4 linked regions of the Homo sapiens genome follow. The protein of the gene in region 1 purifies or fractionates together with the protein of each later gene. This does not show direct contact. Each region holds a gene or a part of one and is shown in the gene's direction. Other genes may lie near its edges. The genes, in order: MAGEA10, FOXJ2, CCHCR1 and QSER1.

Region 1 (2,809 bases):
AGCGTCAGCGCTGCATGCCTGAAGAAGATCTTCAATCCCAAAGTGAGACACAGGGCCTCGAGGGTGCACAGGCTCCCCTGGCTGTGGAGGAGGATGCTTCATCATCCACTTCCACCAGCTCCTCTTTTCCATCCTCTTTTCCCTCCTCCTCCTCTTCCTCCTCCTCCTCCTGCTATCCTCTAATACCAAGCACCCCAGAGGAGGTTTCTGCTGATGATGAGACACCAAATCCTCCCCAGAGTGCTCAGATAGCCTGCTCCTCCCCCTCGGTCGTTGCTTCCCTTCCATTAGATCAATCTGATGAGGGCTCCAGCAGCCAAAAGGAGGAGAGTCCAAGCACCCTACAGGTCCTGCCAGACAGTGAGTCTTTACCCAGAAGTGAGATAGATGAAAAGGTGACTGATTTGGTGCAGTTTCTGCTCTTCAAGTATCAAATGAAGGAGCCGATCACAAAGGCAGAAATACTGGAGAGTGTCATAAGAAATTATGAAGACCACTTCCCTTTGTTGTTTAGTGAAGCCTCCGAGTGCATGCTGCTGGTCTTTGGCATTGATGTAAAGGAAGTGGATCCCACTGGCCACTCCTTTGTCCTTGTCACCTCCCTGGGCCTCACCTATGATGGGATGCTGAGTGATGTCCAGAGCATGCCCAAGACTGGCATTCTCATACTTATCCTAAGCATAGTCTTCATAGAGGGCTACTGCACCCCTGAGGAGGTCATCTGGGAAGCACTGAATATGATGGGGCTGTATGATGGGATGGAGCACCTCATTTATGGGGAGCCCAGGAAGCTGCTCACCCAAGATTGGGTGCAGGAAAACTACCTGGAGTACCGGCAGGTGCCTGGCAGTGATCCTGCACGGTATGAGTTTCTGTGGGGTCCAAGGGCTCATGCTGAAATTAGGAAGATGAGTCTCCTGAAATTTTTGGCCAAGGTAAATGGGAGTGATCCAAGATCCTTCCCACTGTGGTATGAGGAGGCTTTGAAAGATGAGGAAGAGAGAGCCCAGGACAGAATTGCCACCACAGATGATACTACTGCCATGGCCAGTGCAAGTTCTAGCGCTACAGGTAGCTTCTCCTACCCTGAATAAAGTAAGACAGATTCTTCACTGTGTTTTAAAAGGCAAGTCAAATACCACATGATTTTACTCATATGTGGAATCTAAAAAAAAAAAAAAAAAAAGTTGGTATCATGGAAGTAGAGAGTAGAGCAGTAGTTACATTACAATTAAATAGGAGGAATAAGTTCTAGTGTTCTATTGCACAGTAGGATGACTATAGTTAACATTAAGATATTGTATATTACAAAACAGCTAGAAGGAAGGCTTTTCAATATTGTCACCAAAAAGAAATGATAAATGCATGAGGTGATGGATACACTACCTGATTTGATCATTATACTACATATACATGAATCAGAACATCAAATTGTACCTCATAAATATCTACAATTACATGTCAGTTTTTGTTTATGTTTTTGTTTTTTTTTAATTTATGAAAACAAATGAGAATGGAAATCAATGATGTATGTGGTGGAGGGCCAGGCTGAGGCTGAGGAAAATACAGTGCATAACATCTTTGTCTTACTGTTTTCTTTGGATAACCTGGGGACTTCTTTTCTTTTCTTCTTGGTATTTTATTTTCTTTTTCTTCTTCTTCTTTTTTTTTTTTTAACAAAGTCTCACTCTATTGCTCTGGCAGGAGTGCAGTGGTGCAGTCTCGGCTCACTGCAACTTCCGCCTCCTGGGTTCAAGCGATTCTCCTGCCTCAGTCTCCTGAGTAGCTGGGATTACAAGTGTGCACCACCATACCCGGCTAATTTTGTATTTTTTAGTAGAGATGGGGTTTCACCATGTTGGCCAGGCTGGTCTCAAACTCCTGACCTCAGGTAATCTGCCCGCCTCAGCCTCCCAAAGTGCTGGGATAACAGGTGTGAGCCACTGCACCCAGCCTCTTCTTGGTATTTTAAAATGTTGTTACTTTTACTAGAATGTTTATGAGCTTCAGAATCTAAGGTCACACGTTCGTTTCTGTTTATCCAGTTTAAGAAACAGTTTTGCTATTTTGTAAAACAAATTGGGAACCCTTCCATCATATTTGTAATCTGTAATAAAATAACATGGAATTGGAATAGTAATTTTCTTGGAAATATGAAAAAAATAGTAAAATAGAGAAAATAATTTTAAGTGTTAGTATTTTTATTTCTTTATTATTTTTAGTTTATCATCCTGCAAAATTAAAAGTTATATCCCTGGATCTTGTTAAGTCGAAATTAAACTGTAATAAATGAAACCTTTGCTCACTAGTGCATTTTTTCCCCAAACATCCACTGAGCATCTGGTCTGTGGAAGGCCCTGGGTCTGTAGTGGAAATGTTAAGCCAGAACCACCTTTACCCATAGGGTGGTAGAGTCTAGGGGCTGCAGTCAAGTAACAAGGTGGCAAGATGTCCTCTAAGACCCAGAAGAAAAGTAAGACGGGGTGAGGGTATTGGGCTGTAGGTGAGAGTGGTCACGTACATCCTCTGAGCCAGGACTTTTGGGGCTTTGAGAAACTGCAGTTCCTTCTGGTGAAGATGAATCCAAAGAAGCTGGGTGGTGCCAGGGTCAGAGCCTCACATAGTTGACAGAGCAAATCCTGGGATGTAAAACTGCTCTGAGCAGTTCCTTTTGGGTGGTGGATGAACAGAGAGGAGTCCACCTGGGGCAGGAATGGAAGGTGTTCTGCACTCTTGTCTCAGTGCAGTTGAACTCCTAATTAAATTAAAAAAATAACTAGGTGATAGATACCCATCATATGCAAGGGTC
Region 2 (6,903 bases), on another chromosome or scaffold:
CTAATTTTCATATTTTTGTAGAGACGGGGTTTCTCCATGTTGGTCAGGGTGGTCTTGAACTCCTGACCTCAGGTGATCCACCTGCCTTGGCCTCCCAAAGTGCTGGGATTACAGGCATGAGCCACCACGTCTGGCCCAGAGAATAGCATTTTAAAAAAACTGTTGTAAAAAGCAACATTCGTTCAATCTTTCATCTATCATCTGTACTCCTCTCCCCCATTACTTGATTATTTTGAAGCAAATTTCAGGCATTTCATGTCTAAATACTTTAGTATTCATAAATATTCATAAAATGGTAATTCCATTAGCACCTAAAGTATACAATAATTGTTTGATATCGCCCTCAGTATTGGAATTTTACCAGTTGTCTCATAATATTTTTTCCAGTTGCTTTGTTTTAATCAGGATCCCTCAAAAGGTCTACATATTGTATTTGATGGACATGTCTCTTGGTCCACATATATTGCATTTGGTTGATAAGCCTCTCAGTCTCTAGGTCCTTCCTCCTTCAGGCATTTAACTAAATATATTACATGTATAAAGGCACATAATCCCTTCACAACATTATGAAATAGGTACTATTATTATCCCCATTTTACTGATGAGGAAACTGAGTCACAAAGCAGTTAAATGACTTACCTAAATTCTCACAATTATTAGGACTCACAGTTGAGAACCACTATTTTTGTTTCACGTAATACACAGTCTCTAATAAGTGCTTCCAAAACGTGCGTTGTAGCATATTAGTCTCCAATTTTATAAAGAATAGTTTTGCTCAAGGTAAATTAACACTCATGAATAATTATATAACATGTTTTATTACAAAGAAGAGTGGATCCTTACATTTTAATTTCTGTATGTTTCAGTGACTTAAAAAATCCTTCTCCGTATTACCCGCCTTAATAGAAAGTAAAGTGAGAATGAATGTAAGTGCTTCCCCCCAATCTTAGGGCAAAACCATACCAAACCAGCCTTGTCAGTTTCTTTTAATTTTAAAAATTACATAAGCAAATCTACACAAACACTAATTATAGATACATTAAAAAATGAAGTAAATTAAAATAATCCATAAACTCACATCTTTGGTGTGTATCCATCTTCTATGTGTCTATTGGTATGCACACAAATATATGCATGAACATATATATATTTTAAAAAGCAACTATATGATTGCATTATACAAATTTTAAAATATTATTTTCTCACTCAAATAAGTCAGATATATAAAACAATGGTTCTTTAAAATAATGTATGCCTACTGCAAAATATCTAAATGATAAAGAACATTATAAAAATAAAACAACTCCACTCACTCTACCTTTCAGAGATAAATACAATTATTCTTGCAAATGCTAAATAGTACTCTGTTGTACAGATGTGCCATAATATATTTAAAATTACCCTATTTTGGATATTTAGGTCTTTTCTAATTTTCCAGTTACAAAAAATACTGCAGCAAATGTCTTGTAAAAACCAAATAATTTCTTGAGCTTTTTATTTTTCCAAATTGCCAGGAAGATTCTAATCCTTCCCTCATGTTTCCATTTTTAGTACAACTGCCTGTCACTCAAGCCCTCCAATTTCCATACACAGGAAATGTCAAAAACGGTTGAAACATAACAAAACATCTAATACATAGCAAGAAAGATTTGCCGCCAAATTATCTGCGTGTGGGAGAATTATTTAATGCCTCAAAGAGAGGAAAAATACATCTTTAAACCTGAATATAGGAAGTGTGAGCAGGAAGAACAGGCTTGTTTTGGTTTACTGCCTTTAATTTTGAGGATGACTTTAAATTCTGATCGCTCCGGACAATGGTATAGAAGTCAAGAGCTGGGCATCGGAGTCATTTGGATTTAAGTCCTGACTCTGCTACTTACTAATTAAGCGAACTCACACATAGTATCTGTAAGTCACAATTTTCTCATCTGTAAAAGAAGTATAATAATAGTGTCTTAGGGAATCGCTAGAATCATCAATGTGACAACACATGCAGAATGCTCAGTGCAATGCCTGGCATATTGTAAATATAATTATTCATATAATATATACATACAACTTAAGTATGCAGTCTTTTGGGGGCAATTCAAATATTTTGCAAGCAATATTTTTGTATTCGTATTATCTTTTTTTTTTTTTTTTTTTGAGACGGTGTCTCACTGTCTCCCAGGCTGGAGTGCAGCGGCACGATCTGGGCTTACTGCAACCTCCGTCTCCCAGTTTCAAGTGATTCTCCTGCCTCAGCCTCCCAGGTAGCTGGGATTACAGGCACGCACTACCACGCCTGGCTAATTCTTTTTTTTTTTTTTTTTTTTTAGACGGAACCTGGCTCTGTCGCCCAGGCTGGAGTGGAGTGGCGCGGTCTCGGCTCACTGCAACCACCGCTTTCCGGGTTCAAGCGATTCTCCTGCCTTAGCCGGCACTACAGGCGTCCGCCACCGCGCCGGGCTAATTTTTGTATTTTTAGTAGAGACAGGGGTTTCACCACGTTGGCCAGGCTGGTCTCCAATTCCTGACTTCAAGTGATCCCCCCGCCTCGGCCTCCCAAAGCTTTGGGATTACGGGCGTGAGCCACTGCGCCTGGCCTCCTATTATCTTATGTGCTATAAAGTAGAGAGTAGGCCGGGCCGTGTTTCCTGCCTGTAATCCCAGCACTTTGGAGGCATAAAAAGGGAGAATAGTTTAAACCCAGGAATTAAAGACCAGCCTCGGCAGCATACTGAGACCCTGCCTCTATTTAAAAAGAAGAAAAAGATAAAGAAAGAAAGGAAAGAAAGTAGGGTAGTTTGATAAAAGTTTAAAAAGCCTGAGTATGGGCCGGGCGCGGTGGCTCACACCTGTAATCCCAGCACTTTGGGAGGCCGAGGAAGGTGGATCACGAGGTCAGGAGTTCGAGACCAGCCTGGCCAACTTGGTGAAACCCCATCTCTACTAAAAATACAAAAATTAGCCGGGCGTGGTGGCGCGCGCCTGTAATCCCAGCTGCTCCGGAGGCTGAGGCATCCCAGCTGCTGGGGAGGCTGAGACAGAAGAATCGCTTGAACCCGGGAGGCGTAGGTTGCAGTGGGCCCAGATCGTGCCATTGCACTCCAGCCTGGGCAATAAGTGAAACAACACCTCAAAAAAAAAAAAAAAAAAAAAAAAAAAGCCAGAGTATGAAATATATGAGAATTTGCAGCAGAATAATATGACTTCAGGATGTGACAGCTGTAAAGGGTAAGCAGGCCAAGTATCAAGGTCCCTTCTTCGCTGAGCAAGATTGCGGAGAACAAGGGCCATGCACAAGTTTAGGAAGCTGAAACAAGGAACAGGACCCAGATCTTCTGATGTTTATTTCACCGTTACACGCTCATTTATCATGTATCCACTCATTCAAGGAGCATTTACTGAATTCCAGGATGATATAAGGGTAACATATAAACTTCACCCCAATCTTCACCTCAATGCTCATGATCCTTTATAAATTATCTCGAGGGAAAGAGAAGCCCATCAAAGACAGTCCTGAGAAAGCTGGGGCTGTTCATCTGTATACGGAGTTTAACAGAATGAAACGCCGGAGTTGGGGTGTCAGCTGGAATTGACGGTATACGGTGCGCACTAGGGACTCTCCCGACGGGGAGCAGTGAGTTGTCATCCCGGGTAGACGGCGAACTCCCGGAGCCACGCGGCCGCAGGTGGGCGAGGGCGGCGAGATCCCTCGCCGGCGTGAGAGCGGCCGTGGCTCTCCAGGCGGAGCGCACACCGGGTAGCGAGGCTCGCGGCTCGGCGCTGCCCGCGGCTCGGCGTCTCCCGGCTCCTCCTTAACCCGCGCCGGGAGGCGGTGGCGGCAGCGGCCGGCGGGCGGGGGAGGGGGAGGGGCGCGGAGCGCGGCGCGGAGGCCGGGGAGGAGCCGGGGCCTGCAGCGGAGCCGAGCCGAGCCCGAGCCCGCGCCGAGCCCTGACACTGTCTGCCCGCCTTCTGGCTCCCCGGGAGCCCAGACTGGTCGGAGCCCGAGCGGTGGCAGCGCGGGGAGCCCCACGCGCCGAAGGGAGCGGACCCGACAGGACGGCCCTAGAGGAGGTGCTGCCGCCACAGTAGCAGGGACCGGAGTCTCGAGCCGCGGCCTCCCGGACCGTGCTGCCCAGGCCAGCTCAGGGACAGCCGGGAGTACGAAAGCCCCACCCTCTGGGGCACCCCGGGAGCGGAGGCGGGAGCGGGGACGCGAGCAACCTCTCCCCCTGTTGGAGAGAAAAGACCCTTACCACTCGGGTGAGGGAAAGAAGAGACCCCTGGAGGGGACGCCTCTCTCCTGCCTAGAGGCGAGGAAGACCCCTGTACTGGCCGGGGAGGAGACCCCCAGAAGTGGAAAGAAGGGAGCTTTCCGTAGGGAAGCAGAGTGAGACCACCCTAGCGCGCCCCCGCCCCTCCAAACACACACTCTCAACAGTTCAGGACTTTGGAGGCAAAGAGAGACGGGGCTGTGCCTGTGGAGTAGGCACCCTCGGCCCACCACTATTCACAGGAGACAGGAGTCCTTACGTTCAGAAGCCACTCCAGGGAAAGAAGAGGAATCGGCTTTCAGCCTTCTGGAGAGGGGAAGACCTCCCCCTCAACTTCCTCGTGCCTAGACAGTGGAACGGGGTGGAGCCCCTCCGCTCCTATCTCCAGCAGACAGAAAGAGCCCTCCACCTCAGAAAGATCCAGTTTGGGGGGGAGGGGAACTCCCCCAAGGGGGAGGAGACAACTCCTGGTTGGGAGAGGCTCCTCCCCTCCTCCCCCGGGTAACAAGCAGGGTGTGGGGGGTGTGCCACCTTCCCCAAGTAGGACCTCCTTCTCCTCCCCCTCCCCCTCCTCCAACCTTGACTCCTCATCCTCAGGGGACCCAGTTCCCCTCACCAACTTGGGAGGCTCAGCCTCGTCCAGGAAGAGCCACTGAGGATGAGAGCCGTCACCTGCCTCTGAAGAGGGGAATCCCTCCAACCCCAAACTCCAGTACCAGGTGGTTCCCTCCCTTTGCCGGAGGAACCTTGGAGACAGGTTAGTGCTTTCTTTCATCTTCTCTCTGTCATTGTCTGGCACTAGTGGGTGTAGGGGGTTGAGCTGGTGGATCGTGGGTTTCACTGCCGGGGAAGACAGAGTGATGACTCAGAAAATCCAATGGGAAATGTGATCCAAGGGAGCTCCTGGATTTGAACCCACATCTTGCTGCAGAAGCTCTGAGAAATGGGTTTCTTAGTGTTTGGGGACTAAAGGGATGGGATTCATTTTAGGTCCCTTAGGGAAGTGGATGTTTTCATGCTGAGGAAAAGGGTTATCGGAAAACAGCTGCATTTTGAGAACATGCATACTGTGTAGCAGTGATTTACACAACCCAACCAGTGGTAAGATTCCCATACCACCCTTCACCCTTGGGCCTTTTCCCCTGGAGAGTGGGCTGTCATGAAAATCACGGTGGCATCTGGGGTCCTGGCCTTGCCCAGGGCATGCCGAGGTCAGCTTAGTGTTCACCAGAGGTGTTCCCTCCAGCTTACTGCAATTATAGCTCCCTTGACAAGAAAAGCAATCTGTTCCTGCTCATCCTATCTCAGATACCAAGAGGCCTCCTCTCCTGACATTTCCATTCCTAGCTGGATGTATGCCTCTGCCCATAAAATCCAAAGGGAAAATGGGAATCCCACATGTTCTGAGGCGAGAAGAAAGTGTGCAGGGGAATGCCAACTCCCGGGTTAAAGTGCTTCCTTGATGCTGGCCCTGAACCACTGCCCCAGTCCCCTTCTCGACTCCTGTTTTTTGCTCACAATTCTTCAGGAAAAATTAGATCCTGGATACGAAGGGAGGAGGGCTGCTGCTCCGCTTCTGTCCAGACTTCCAGTTAAACAAGTTGACCACTGGAGAGATTTCACTTCTGAGGAGTATATAAAGTTTCCTTCCAGAAAAGTACCTAATAGTCTCATCCTCTCCCTTCCTGTTTCTTGTTCAGTTCTGAGTCCCTCGAACCTTGTGTTAAAGTTTTCCTTCATAAGCTAGGGAATTATCAAAGTCCAGAATCTTCAGAAAAGGCAGGAAAAGGGTACCAGGAAATCCTCCCCTGAAGCCTAGGCTGTTTTTAGGAGAGGTCACTAGCTGGTTGTCTGCTTTCCTGCCTCACCATTAGCAGATACCTTATCTTCTGTCTCACAGCAAGGACAAGTTGTGAAGGAGGCTTCATCTGACTTGGCCTTTCATATTTCCTCCTCTCTCTGGGGCATGGGTGAGGTCTACCTAAATTCCTGAGTACAGTCATTTGTCCTGGAAGCTACTGGTGGTATATGAGATAGGGCACAGGTTTGTGTGGCTGTGCTATAGGACAACATGCATATACTTCTTAATTCATGTGAATGTGGCTCTCTGTTTCAAGTGGGTATGTGTGTGGAGACAGGTACTTATGTGCTTTTCAGACTATACTCCAGTTACCTAGAATTGTATGTTTCTGGTGGGCCTCTAGAAGCAGGTGCCTCTGTACAAGGACATGGATAGGTGGTGGTAAGGATGGCCACCTGAGGGGAAAGGCTTGGCCTCCCCCCAGTCAATGGGAGCCCTCGTGACGGTCTACAGGACAGTCCTTTAAGCAGCAGGGCAACCCAGTCTCAGGCTGGGATCATTTCTTCTAGGACTAATAAGAGAGCTTCATTGCTGATACCTCTGGTCTCAGAAGGATGAGGATCCTTGACTCCTAACTCCAGAACTCCTTCCCCTACCTTTTACAAAAGAGGCCTCGCTGGTTAACAGCAGCCTGTTTCTTATAAAGTACTTCACCAGATGCTGGCGTGCACCTGCCTGAATGGCTCAGGGTGAACTATATCACAACATCTCCAAGTACACCACCGCCACGCAGTTTAACTGGCCCTGCTTGGACTGAGTTCCCTAACCCTGCTTGCTTCTCTG
Region 3 (5,905 bases), on another chromosome or scaffold:
GTGTCCTCCACTACACCCGGCTAATTTTTGCATTTTTAGTAGGGACGGGGTTTCACCATGTTGGCCAGGCTGGTCTTGAACTCCTGACCTCAGGTGATCCACCCACCTCAGCCTCCCAAAGTGCTGGAATTATAGGTGTGAGCCACTGCACCTGGCCTAGTCTATTTATTTAAAGCTATATACTTACTTGCTTATTATATACTTAACTTGCTTACTATTCCATCTAAAATGTAAGCCAGTTAGTTTCCTTCTAAATCAATTGCCAGCCTTTGTCTCTCCTACCAACTTCCTAGTTGTTTCATTACCTACAATTGTTGTATGACCTTCAGAAAAACCTCTAAGAAAACAGCAAAGCTTCTTTGTGCTGGTGATGACTTCCCCTCAGCCTTAGACACTGAGGTACCCAAGGCAGGTAGTTCTTTTTTTTTTTTTTTTTTTTTTTGAGACAGAGTCTCGCACTGTCACCCAGGCTGGAGTGCAATGGCACGATCTCAGCTCACTGCAACCTCTGCCTCCCGGGTTCACACGATTTTCCTGCCTCAGCCTCCTGAGTAGCTGGGATTACAGGTGCACACCACCACACCCGGCTACTTTTTTGTATTTTTAGTAGAGACAGGGTTTCACTGTGTTGGCCAGGCTGGTCTCAAACTTCTGACCTCGTGATCCGCCCGCCTCGGCCTCCCAAAGTGCTGGGATTACAGGCTTGAGCCACCGTGCCTGGCCGGCAGGTAGTTCTTAGCACAGTCTCTGGCTTGTAAATGTTTATTGTTATCGTGAGGCTCTTCTTGATGGGTTAATTTAGATAAAGATAATTTTTGGTTTAGCGAAATTAAGATGCAGGATGAGTCCTTGCCCATCACTTCCTTCTCTTGGATTTGTACCTTAGGGACTAATTTAGCTTTAAAAATTATGAAAAATTTCAAACTTGCACGGAATTAAACTAGTTATAATGACCTACCACCCAGGTTCAATCCATCGCGGGTGCCCCCTACCTCCAGGAGAACAGAAAGATGCACTGTGGACAGGGTTTGACTTTGGTACCAGGCGATCACAGAAATGGTCTGTGTAATGATGCATTTGCCGAAAGTCCTCCAGGCTTAAAGCAGTCCAAACTCTGATTGTTGCTGGGTTTATTAGATTGTCTCTAGGTAATTGGAGACTTTAATAAGGGCTGTGGTAGGTGTTGGAAGCATCTACTGGAACAATTTCCAGATCAAAGTGAACTTTGCTGTGCTGCTGGGGATGCAGCTGCAAGCCTTCATCATCATGTGTTTTTCTGTGGGTGCAGACCTGGACTCTCCTGAGGAAACCCCAGCCCGGCCCCAGACACTCCTTGGCCTCCTCCTGGGGCCTGTTTAAGCTGCTCAGTTTTCATGAGCCAGGTTGGTCCTACTTCTGGCACAGCCAGCTGGTAAAGCATGTGGACCTGCCCGTCATTGGTGCTAGATCGACACTCCTGGGCTTGGAGAGGATAACTTTGTTTTCTTTTGTTTTTTTGAGATGGAGTCTCGCTCTGTCACCCAGTCTTGAGGGCAGGGGTGCGATCTTGGCTCACTGGAACCTCCACCTCCTAGGTTCAAGTGATTCTCGTGCCTCAGCTTCTGGAGTAGCTGGGATTACAGGCATGAGCCACCATGCCCGGCTAATTTTTGTGTTTTTAAGTAGAGAGAGTTTCACCATGTTGGCCAGGCTAGTCTCCAATTCCTGACTTCAGGTGATCCGCCCGCCTCGGCCTCCCAAAGTGCTGGGATTACAGGCAGGAGCCACTGCCCCTGATCAGAGAGGATAACTTTACTCTTTGATACACGATAGTGAGCAAAACACAGTTGTGAGAAATAAGCTTAACAGGTTGCTTAAAAAGATAGTCATTTAATGCATTCTTGGGGCAAGGGTCCTTTAGATAATTGACGGAAGCTGTGCGTTCTGTACTTGTATAATGGGACAGGATTAGAGGGAGTTGTCTATACAAGGCACAGCAAGTCCTTTGGGAATGAGGGGAGGCATGGAGGATCAGTGACTTGTGCCCTCTCCAGCTCTCAGATCTGGCTCGAGACCACCATGGCTAAGGTGGAAGGGGCTGCCGCCCAGCTTCCCAGCCTCAACAACCGACTCAGCTATGCTGTCCGCAAGGTCCACACCATTCGGGGTGCGTAGGACAACTGCGAGCCACGTCCTGCCCCCACCCCACCAGCTCGGACTTTCTTCTTCCTGACCCAGCTCTCTCTGATCCCACATCCATTCACCTTCCTCCTTTCACCAGTCCTTGCATCTCTTTTTCCCTTACTCCCTGTCCCCACTTTCTCCCATGCAAACTTCATCTCTTTTTCTCCCTGCTTTTTCCCCTCCAGGCCTGATTGCTCGAAAGCTTGCCCTTGCTCAGCTGCGCCAGGAGAGGTGAAGTTTGGGCACTTTGAGGTGGATGGGGCTTTAGGGCATTGGCTGCTGGGACCCCCAAAACCATGAGGACTGAGGTGGGATGGGGGCTTTGGGATCAGGCAGCTGGGTGATTTCTTCTGACTCTTTCTCTTCCCCGTCCCAGCTGTCCCCTACCACCACCGGTCACAGACGTGAGCCTTGAGTTGCAGCAGTTGCGGGAAGAACGGAACCGCCTGGATGCAGAACTGCAGCTGAGTGCCCGCCTCATCCAGCAGGAGGTGGGCCGGGCTCGGGAGCAAGGTACACCTGGTTGCCAGGGGGTGGAGAGGATGAGGAAAAACCCGGTGTCTAGGGTGCTGGGAGAGGCCTGACCCAGCACCCCCTCCTTTTAGGGGAGGCAGAGCGGCAGCAGCTGAGCAAGGTGGCCCAGCAGCTGGAGCAGGAGCTGCAGCAGACCCAGGAGTCCCTGGCTAGCTTGGGGCTGCAGCTGGAGGTAGCACGCCAGGGCCAGCAGGAGAGCACAGAGGAGGCTGCCAGTCTGCGGCAGGAGCTGACCCAGCAGCAGGAACTCTACGGGCAAGGTGTCGAGAGGGAAATGGGTGCTTCCCTTGGAGGGTGGGGTGGGAACTGCGAATCAAAGCTCCTGCTGATATGCCCCGTCTGCACTTTCACCCCAGCCCTGCAAGAAAAGGTGGCTGAAGTGGAAACTCGGCTGCGGGAGCAACTCTCAGACACAGAGAGGAGGCTGAACGAGGCTCGGAGGGAGCATGCCAAGGCCGGTGAGCCTTGCCAGGGTGGATAGGGCCTTCCAGGAAGAAGGAAGTGTTAAGACATAAGGTTATTATTTTCCCCTCAAAGTGTGTTCAAAGCTTCATTACAGGAAGTAATGAAGGTATCCAGGAGTAGCACAGATGAATTATCACATCGTGAACACACCCATGTAGCCAGCACCAGATTAAGAAACAGCATATGGCCGGTCGCGGTGGCTTATGCCTGTAATCCAAGCACTTTGGGAGGCCGAGGTGGGTGTATCACCTGAGGTCAGGAGTTTGAGGCCAGCCTGGACAACATGGCGAAACCCTGTCTCGACTAAAAATACAAAAATTAGCTAGGCCTGGTGGTGGGCACCTGTACCCCAAGCTTACTTGTGAGGCTGATGTGGGAAGACTACATGAACCCGGGAGGTCGAGGCTGCAGTGAGCCAAGATTGTGCCACTGCACTCAAGCCTGGGTGATAGAGAAAGACCATGTGTCAAAAAAAGAATTGTGTAATGAATGTATCTTCTCTAACTAAATATAGCAGTTAACATTTGCCACATTTGGTCTCTTATCTATATACACACATATTTGTACATCTTTTGAATCACTTTAAGTTGTAATCATTTAATGTTTTGTTGTTGTTGTTGTTTGAGACAGAGTCTTCCTCTGTCACCAGCTGGAGTGCAGTGGCATGATCTTGGCTCACTGTGACCTCTGCCTCCCGGGTTCAAGCCATTCTCCTGGCTCAGCCTCCCAAGTAGCTGGGATTACAGGCGCCCACCACCATGCCCAGCTAGTTTTTGTATTTGCAGTAGAGACGGGATTACACCATGTTGGCCAGGATGGTCTCGAGCTCCTAACCTCGTGATCCGCCCGCCTTGGCATCCCAAAGTGCTGGGATTATAGGCGTGAGCCACCACGCCTAAGTAAGTTGTAAACATAAGTTGTTCAGCCGCATCTCCCAAAGCCAGTAAATTCTCCTATATAGCTGCAATCATCACACTTTAAGACAGTGAACACTAATTGCACAAAATCTAACCCAGTTCATGTTCAGATTTCCCCTGAGGAACTCCAGGATGGTTCAGGGATGAGGAAGATACTTAGGTTCAGATTCCCAGGCTCCTAGAGCATCAGCCCACCCCTCCAACTGTACAGAAGAGACAGATCCACAGAGCAGAACAGCCTCCCCAAGCCACAGAGTTGGTGACCCAGCGTTTGTTCCTGTCTTCATGGTGCCTGGCTGCCTCTGGCCTGACTCACACCTGCCTCCTCTGTGCCTTGGCCTCTCTGTAGTGGTCTCCTTACGCCAGATTCAGCGCAGAGCCGCCCAGGAAAAGGAGCGGAGCCAGGAACTCAGGCGTCTGCAGGAGGAGGCCCGGAAGGAGGAGGGGCAGCGACTGGCCCGGCGCTTGCAGGAGCTAGAGAGGGATAAGAACCTCATGCTGGTAGGAGACAGGAGGGCAGACAGGCAGACACTAGGGCCCATCCTGGGCTGGTTCCTGGGCTAGAGGTGTGGAAAGAGGATGGTGAGGGAGGCTCTATCCGGGCTAGGTTTAACCCTCTCCTTCCCAGGCCACCTTGCAGCAGGAAGGTCTCCTCTCCCGTTACAAGCAGCAGCGACTGTTGACAGTTCTTCCTTCCCTACTGGATAAGAAGAAATCTGTGGTGTCCAGCCCCAGGCCTCCAGAGTGTTCAGCATCTGCACCTGTAGCAGCAGCAGTGCCCACCAGGGAGTCCATAAAAGGTCTTGGGCCAAGCACAAAGGGACAAGGGACAAATGCGCGCACTTCAGGAATCTCCTCTTCAGACTCTCGCATGATGAGTGTTGTTCTCTGCGGTCCTTCGAGGCCCTTAGCCTCTTTTAGCGATGCCCAGCTTGGACCAAAGAGCCTCCTCTCTCCCATTCCTCATTTCCTGTGCCAGCCCTGTTTCCTCTGTAACCACGAGCACCTTCCCTTGTCTGGTGCTCATCTGCTGTCTTCCTTCCCAGGGTCCCTCTCTGTCCTGCTCGATGACCTGCAGGACCTGAGTGAAGCCATTTCCAAAGAGGAAGCTGTTTGTCAAGGAGACAACCTTGACAGATGCTCCAGCTCCAATCCCCAGATGAGCAGCTAAGCAGCTGACAGTTGGAGGGAAAGCCAGCCTGGGGGCTGGGAGGATCCTGGAGAAGTGGGTGGGGACAGACCAGCCCTTCCCCATCCTGGGGTTGCCCTGGGGGATACCAGCTGAGTCTGAATTCTGCTCTAAATAAAGACGACTACAGAAGGAGCCATTGTTTGGAAATGTTATTTCTGGGAATCTGTGGGAATTCTCCCTGCAGCCATCTCTCTTGGAGATTGTGAGAAGTGGTCCCACCCATAGCTCTCTCTATGGGTGGCACCTTTTCAAATCCTTTTTCTAGGCAGCTTTGGAAATGTTTGGGAAGCTCCTGCTTTTCTTTATTCTCAACTTTTGTTTTAAAACTCTTTTCTTCTGGAAGATGATAAATGCTAGGAGTGGGGAAGATGAAACATTCACTCGTTCAACAGGAATGTCAGAGCTAGGCACTGTATTAGCCTGGGGGCCACTTGGACCCTGAGAGCCTACATCCTAGTGGGAGAGCGAGCGAGCAGATGGGACCTAAACAGATGAACGAGATCGTTTCAAATAAGTGCTTGAAGAGAAAGTACAGTACGATGATATGATAGAAACTGACTCTGGGGAGAGGCCTCTGAGCAGGGGACCTTGTGCAGAGGCCTGCCTGAAGTGGGCTCCTGTGGAGGCCAGGAGG
Region 4 (7,283 bases), on another chromosome or scaffold:
CCTGCCCCCGCCTCTCCCTCCACACCTCCCCTCAAGCTGAGGGAGCCGGCTCTGGCCTTGGCCAGCCCGGAAAGGGGCTCCCACAGTGCAGCAGTGGGCTGAAGGGCTCCTCAAGTGTGGCCAGAGTGGGCGCCAAGGCCTAGGAGGCGCCGAGAGCAAGCGAGGGCTGCCAGCACGCTGTCACCTCTCAGGACTACAGGTGCACCACCATGCCTGGCTAATTTTTATTTCCTTTCTGATGTTTTAATTTAATTTATGATGTTGACCTAAGAGATGGAAACCAGGGCTGCTCTGGCAAAGACAGGGCTTATAGTTTCCCTCAATGCCAGAAGAGAAGGGAAAAATTTAAAACCATATCTTCTTTCCCTGTTCAAATCACTTCTCACACACATATTCCTTGTATTCTCAGTGAAACCACAAACTTGACCTTCTTGGATCTTTCTTCTTGATGGTTGGTCTATTTATAACATAGGAATGTGTGGACTTACTGACTACATTTCTAGTTAGGCAACCCCAAATTCTGCATTTCCCAACAAGCTAATGAACAAGGCCACCTCAGTGAAGATGGGGTTTCCTGGGTCTCACCCCAACTGATTCCCTCCATCATCTTAAAGCAAGTCACTCAATACCAGGCCTCAGCTTCCTCAACTACAAAAGGAAGGCAATGAACTATGTACTCAATAGAACTACAATCTTTCTACCAGTTGAAATACTTATTTTCTTTTTTTTTTTTTTTTGAGAGGCAAAATCAATTACTTCCTTTTCAATTGTCCTCTGGTGCTTTATTCCAATTTCTATTATATTTAACACTATCCTATTGCATTACAATTAGTTGTGTGTCTGCCTCTTTTCCTCATAAATTACAGGTTCCATAAAGACAGGCGTTGTATTAAATTTACCCTCGTATTCACAGCATTTAGTATTATGCTTGGCACTGTATTAGGCTCTAAATACATATCTATTGAATGAATAAATATGTAAGCTACTTTAAAAATGCCCATTCAGGCTGGATGCGGTGGCTCATGCCTGTAATCCCAGCACTTTGGGAGGCTGAGGTGGGCATATCACGAGGTCAGGAGATCGAGACCATCCTGGCTAACACGACGAAACCTCGTCTCTACTAAAAATACAAAAAATTAGCTGGGCGTGGTGGCGGGCACCTGTAGTCCCAGCTACTCGGGAGGCTTAGGCAGGAGAATGGCGTAAAACCCAGGAGGCAGAGCTTGCAGTGAGCCGAAATCGCGCCACTGCACTCCAGCCTGGGCGACAGAGCAAGACGCTATCTAAGAAAAAAAAATGCCCATTCAGAAGTTCCAATTAGTCATTTACATATTCCTTTCCTTTCCCCCCCAAAAAAGAAAAACCAAAACACTCTATCTCAATTCTAAAATCGGGGCAAGATTTGAAAATTGATTAAATCAAAGGCAGTTTGGTTTTAAGATGAATTGGAGTAAATCCTACACTTAAGAAGGAATCTTCCAGCACTTTGGAAGGCTGAGGTGGGAGGATTGCTTGAGGCCAGGAGCTCAAGACCAGCCTTGGACACCATAGCGAGACCCTGTCTGAAAAAAAACAAAAAAAACTCTTTCCTTCTTCCTCACCTCCATCTCCCACTTCCTTCTGAGTTTATTGTCTAGAGTTAGTCATGCCTTAGAACATGCCCATGAACAATCTCCCCACATTTTCCACCCTAACTCCCATCCCATTAGAAAATCAATACGTATTTCACAGGTCGCGGTGGCTCACGCCTGTAATCCCAGAACTTTGGGAGGCTGAGGCAGGCGGATCATCTGAGGTCAAGAGTTCGAGACTAGCCTGGCCAAAATGGTGAAACCCGTCTCTACTAAAAATACAAAAAAATTAGCTGGGCGTGGTGGCATGCGCCTGTATTCCCAGCTACTCAGGAGGCTGAGGCAGGAGAATCGCTTGAATCCGGGAGGCGGAGGTTGCAGTGAGACGAGATCACCCCACTGCACTCAAGCCTGGGCGACAGAGCGAGACTGTCTGAAAAAACGAACAAACAAAAACACGGGACCAACAATGCTCATTCTAGAGTTTGACATTACCTAGATCAGACTTGAAGCAGCTTGGTTACGAATCATTTGAGAGATCCCGAAACGTTCACAGAGCTGGAAGTATATTTTCAGTAGGGAAGAAGACATTCTTCAGATAGTATCATCAAGTGTACAAAATTTTTAAAAGATTTATTTACATATATCAAAGCATCACATTGTACCCCATAAATGTATGCAATTATGATTTGTCAATTAAAAATAGTATTGATAAAAAATGTAATGATGTTATTTGTAGACATGTAACATTTGAAAATAAATATAATTGTACTGATTTAGAGTGAACTAAGGAAATTTCATTTAAATGGCAAAGGAACATATGGTGACAGAGTAATATTACTAAAAATACTCACTAGAATTTTCCCTTAATATCTTTCCCTGATTTATGTGACATAAACAAACTACATAATGGTGTGAGGGACTATAAAGGTTTTATTGCCACTTGTTTGGTATTGCCTGCGTAACTCACTCTGAGTGCCAGTTGTGGGTATCTCAAACTAAGTGTCATAAAACATTTATAGCATGCCACTCCATTTCCTATACTTTTCATAGAGACAAAACTTTAGCGCTCACAAAAGTACTTATAAATATAATAGCTAGTTGTGAAAACTTTTTAATTTAGATCCCACATTTCCAGTTTGCAGGAAGAAAAATAAATGTAATGAAGATTTACGTTACTTCTCTGCATGAACTCAGATTAGTTCGCAAATTCCTTTTCAAAGAAAAACCACTTTTCAAAGATATCCTCAGTAAATGCATTTTGTAATTAACATAAAATTGGCAAAGTCGCTGTGCCTACACGTTTGAATTCATGTGTAAATAACGACTACTCACTTCCTTGCTTCCCCACCCGGGGACCAGGCTCCAAGCATCACAGGTGCAGAAAGACTTGCAAAAAGGAATGAATAGGAACAAAAGGATGTAGGCGCCAGGAGGAAAACAGGATCTTCCAGAACAAAATTAATCTCGCAAGGCATAGCAGATCCAACACCAGATTATTACCAAAGTTTAAACTTTTTCAATGGTCATCAGAGATAGCGTATCAAGTTTATTAGGTCTTTCACTACGGCTGATTTGCTTAAACCTTTATGTTATGCTTATCTTGAGGGATAGATTTCTGTGCTAAGCACATAATAGGTGTTAAACCAATATTGATTTTTAAAAGGAGGTGGTCATTAAATAGAAATTTTACTGTTATTTTAACCTTTAAATTTATGGCCCAAGGGCCAAACGATGATTTGTACGATTCCCTAGTTTCAATACTTGTGAGTTATTACAAGAAATACAACTCTGCTATGCAACAGAAGAACCGCAAATAGTCATTAAATTACCGCACACCAAGCAGCTTGGAGATCAGATAGGAAATGTTTGGGGAGAGAGTCCTGCTGAAGTTCCAAGTCTCAAACAAAACCCCTCAACATCAGAGTGCATGGTGAGTTTAAATTTATTGTAATTAAAGTCATCCAGATGGTAGTTGGATTAATCAATGAAGAGGTGGTTATCTATCTTGGGATAGAAGATTCTGAAACCCAGAGCGAGAAAAATCCCCAAGGTGGGGGTGGGGACAGTTAATAAGAGCCCTTGGGAAAGGCCCTTTCAGCGAGGATTGGAAAATAATACGTTTGAATTTGAATCTCTTTGAATATAAATCTCCCCTAACAGCAGGAAAAGGGTCCTCTAGCCCAGCAAGCTTTGGGGAGGGAGTAAGCGGAACTGCAAAAGAGCTCGCTCAGCTGTTTCTGGATTGGGGCGCAGAGAAAGAAATCGCGATCAGGGAACTGAGTACTGGAGTCCCTCAAAATAACCCGAAGGGTCAAATAGTGAGCTCCAAGCAAAGCGTTGACCCGGCTACCCCTGAGCAGCGCCCTACGCTGGGTTCCACTCCACTTCCCCTCCCCCGCGCGGGGCGATAGCCAGGCGCGGTCCCTTCCCACGCGGGCCGCGGCGAGTGCGGACAGCTCCCTTCCGGGCTGCGGAAGGCGGGAAGTCTGCGGTTCGCGGGCTCCGGCTGGCGGGCGCCCCTCGGAGTCCCTGAAGTCGGCCGGGCCCCGCAGGACCCGCGCCTTCTCGGCCCCAACTGTCCCTCGCGAAGCGTCCTGCGGTGGCGGAGGCCTCGCGGCCGCCCGCCAGCCCCGCGAGCGGCAAGCGCGGGGCTCAGAGGGGAGGCGGGGCAAGGCCGCGGGGCGGAGGGGGGCGGGAGGTGCATCCTGGGAAATCCACCAACATGGGGCGCAGCGGCCGCCGCCGCCGCCGCCGTCGCCGCGAGTCCCGGCCGCGGGTGCCTCCGCTTCCCTGACGCCCAGCTGGGGCCTCGCCGCCCGCCGCGGCCCGGGTCTTTGCGGCCCAGACTCGCCAGCGCGCCCTTCTCCCGCCTGCTCGCCGGGGCCATGTGAGGGGGCAGCTCCCTCCACCGCCGCCGCCCCCTCTTCCTCCCCCGCCCCCTCTCCCTGCCCGCCCCCGTCACACGGAGCCCTGGAGGATCCCCCGCTGCTGCCCGCCCTCCCTACGCCACCCCCACGATGGACAGGAACTACGCGACCTCGGGCTTCACCGAGCCGCCGCCGCCGCCGCCGCCCGCGCCCCCCGCCGCCCCCGTCCCCGCCAGCGCCGCTGCGCAGCCCCCCGCCCCAGCCTGGGCGTACGAACCCCGAGCCGCCGCCGCCGCCGCCAGCAGCAGCTGCAGCAGTGGCAGCTGCAGTAGCGGCAGCAGCCCCAGCCTCAAGGCCAGGTAGGGAGGGTGGGCGGCGGGGTCGCGGTGGACCAGGAAAGGCCGGGGATGCGTTTGGGGCCTTCGCTCGGTTGCAGCGCCGCCCAGAGGTCTGGGCCGGGCGGGGAGCCCTCCGCTCGCCCTCGGCCAGCTCGGGGGAGGCGGCTGATGACTCCTACGGGGTGGTCGCGGGTAGGTGGGGGCGCCCGGTGCAGGATTCGCGCCTGGGGACGGCGGGTGAAGGAATAGCTGGGCGGGAGTCGTGGGGCTCCGTCACCTCTTGGGTCCTGGGCTCTCACATGGTGAAGTTTGGGCTCGTGGCTGAACTCGGGATCTGTGAGACCCAGGATTGGCGCCGGGGGTCCGAAGGGGGCGCCGGAGAGTTTGGGGCAGTGGCGATCCATTGTATTGGAACCTGGGTGGCCGACAATGCGGTCTTGGGGACTCCGGCGTGTGAGGGTTGCGGAGGCGGGAGAGGAAGAGTCGCGGAACCGCGTCCCGGAGACACTGGGGGGCCCGGGAGGGCTGGGCTACGGGAGAATCCCCGGGGCGCAGGGCAGAAGAGGGGGCCCGGCAGGGCGCGAACGCGGCTCCAGGGCCGGGTGACATATGTTTGCGCTGGTGGCCAAGATTTAGGCGATTTTTCTTCCACGCGTTCAAAGTTGCTCTTAGGTTTCCTCCCCTTTTAACAACAGCAGGAAGTAAGGAATCTTTCTTTGCCTTCTATGCCTCGGGGTGACTGAGAGTTGGGAAGAAATGGGGCGGGGGTTGGGGTGGGGGTAGTGAAGGCCGTAAAGGTTGAAGAACCAAAGCATGCTTCTCCATCTCGGCCTTTAAGGTCCGGGTGCATTATGTAGCGTGGGGTTCAAGAGTTCATCTTGCATGACCAAGGGAATCTAAAATTTTGACTCCTACTTGATATTTAAGCTCGCGGGAAATGTGTAGTAGTGCCACACTGTGAAACGGTCCCATTTGAATGATAACTGGAAGGCGTGGTCTGGTTTGGAGAATTGGTGAGCGGGGTGTTTTAAAGCCACCTCTCCCGAACAATACAGAATCTGGTAGGTGCAGCTTCTGATTACATGGACCAGGGAATCCTGGGTTGCTAATGACTTCATCCTCAGCTACCAACAGGAAGCTTCGTGGCTTTATGATCTCATCAGATTTCTTCATTATTTTTCACGACAGAAGTGAACTTTTGTTTTAAGTTTATACATTACCGTGTTCCAGGTTATCTTCTTTGTTTTTACGAAAGTTCTACGTTCATGATTGAGCAAATAAGTGTGAAGGGTAGCTGGTCTTTGTCTTAGATTGTCCATTGGGACGATTGTGAAAGAATGAGAAAAATTTGCTTCAAGAATAGGAATATAAGCTTTCTCAGAAAATTTTAGGCCCTTTGTTTTCAAGACTTGGGAGTTAACAAAAATAATGTGATGTGCCAATTTGGAGCTAAGTAATTAAATGCTGAAACCTTTCAGAAATAGCCATAATTTTGTATTACATACAAGTAAGCCATTTTAAGGAGTTTCATGAAAGACGTTTGGCACTTCACCCATTATTTCTTGCTGATGGTAATTTGACTATCTTTTTCAAGTAGCTTTTTGCATTGACTAGGATAATTTACAAATGAAAATTACTTTCTCATCATTGAACAGCATGATAGGTATTTGTGCCGCATTTTTTATCTTTTAAATGAAAAATATTTATTAGGTAAATGGAACTGAAATACTACCTAGTTACTTCTTTTAGTAGAATACTTCTGAGGCAAGAAACTAAAATCTACTTGTCATATTTTCCAAATGTTATTTATCAGAGTAACACGAAATGACTTCCCAAACACACTTGAAAACAGTAAGTAGATTCACTTGGCACACATAATCTAAAGGAGATTTATTTTCTGTTTACTAGAAGTTATTGAATCTTAAATATTACCCCTCATGCCCTCTCCCCCTGCTTTTTTAAAAAATAAGCGGTGGGGGGAATCAGCTAAAATACAGCATAGAAAATGCAGGTTTACCCCCCTCCCCCGCCAGCCTGCTTTGTTAACATCTTGTATTGGGATCAGGCCATCTGTACAGAGTTACACTTCTGAATTATACCTCATTTTATTCCTCAAACTGTGCAAATATTCCCTTTGATTTCAGTTATATCAAAAATGGCAAATCTGAAATATGCCTTGTAAGTCTAAATATTCTACACTTCAGAAGCTTATTTATATTTTTATACCATTTTAAAAAGCTTTTTCATAATGCACATATCAGTTGAATGTTTTTGTTCCCCTTTGTGGCAGTTTCTTGTGAAGGTGCAAATGAGTACTAGTTGTGATGATGTAATATGGATACTTATCCATAAAGAATTAGCCTGTCTGTCACCTTGTTTCCTGTAACCTATTCAGAAGCTGACAGATGGTAATGACATTCAGTTGTTGCCGACAGGGATCTAACATCCTACTTTATGCCTTCTTGGTCTTGAAATACATCATTTTCATCAGTTGATGGGAAGGT

The links.
Region 2: the proteins of MAGEA10 (region 1) and FOXJ2 purify together in Homo sapiens (affinity purification with mass spectrometry; 5 studies listed by BioGRID and IntAct, with this or other methods). This does not show direct contact.
Region 3: the proteins of MAGEA10 (region 1) and CCHCR1 purify together in Homo sapiens (affinity purification with mass spectrometry; 4 studies listed by BioGRID and IntAct, with this or other methods). This does not show direct contact.
Region 4: the proteins of MAGEA10 (region 1) and QSER1 purify together in Homo sapiens (affinity purification with mass spectrometry; 5 studies listed by BioGRID and IntAct, with this or other methods). This does not show direct contact.

Annotation. Positions count from the first base shown.
Region 1 is NC_000023.11:152,132,796-152,135,604, reverse strand, and holds the end of MAGEA10 (melanoma-associated antigen 10), read left to right. Parts: coding exon 1-1,094; 3' UTR 1,095-2,295; downstream 2,296-2,809. UniProt on the Homo sapiens protein: Not known, though may play a role in embryonal development and tumor transformation or aspects of tumor progression.
Region 2 is NC_000012.12:8,028,818-8,035,720, forward strand, and holds the start of FOXJ2 (forkhead box protein J2), read left to right. Parts: upstream 1-3,898; 5' UTR 3,899-5,016; intron 5,017-5,249; exon of another isoform or gene 5,250-5,360; intron 5,361-6,903.
Region 3 is NC_000006.12:31,141,937-31,147,841, reverse strand, and holds the end of CCHCR1 (coiled-coil alpha-helical rod protein 1), read left to right. Parts: intron 1-2,033; coding exon 2,034-2,146; intron 2,147-2,348; coding exon 2,349-2,394; intron 2,395-2,539; coding exon 2,540-2,676; intron 2,677-2,768; coding exon 2,769-2,957; intron 2,958-3,053; coding exon 3,054-3,155; intron 3,156-4,428; coding exon 4,429-4,580; intron 4,581-4,707; coding exon 4,708-4,879; intron 4,880-5,125; coding exon 5,126-5,250; 3' UTR 5,251-5,403; downstream 5,404-5,905. UniProt on the Homo sapiens protein: May be a regulator of keratinocyte proliferation or differentiation.
Region 4 is NC_000011.10:32,888,535-32,895,817, forward strand, and holds the start of QSER1 (glutamine and serine-rich protein 1), read left to right. Parts: upstream 1-4,276; 5' UTR 4,277-4,591; coding exon 4,592-4,800; intron 4,801-7,283. UniProt on the Homo sapiens protein: Plays an essential role in the protection and maintenance of transcriptional and developmental programs.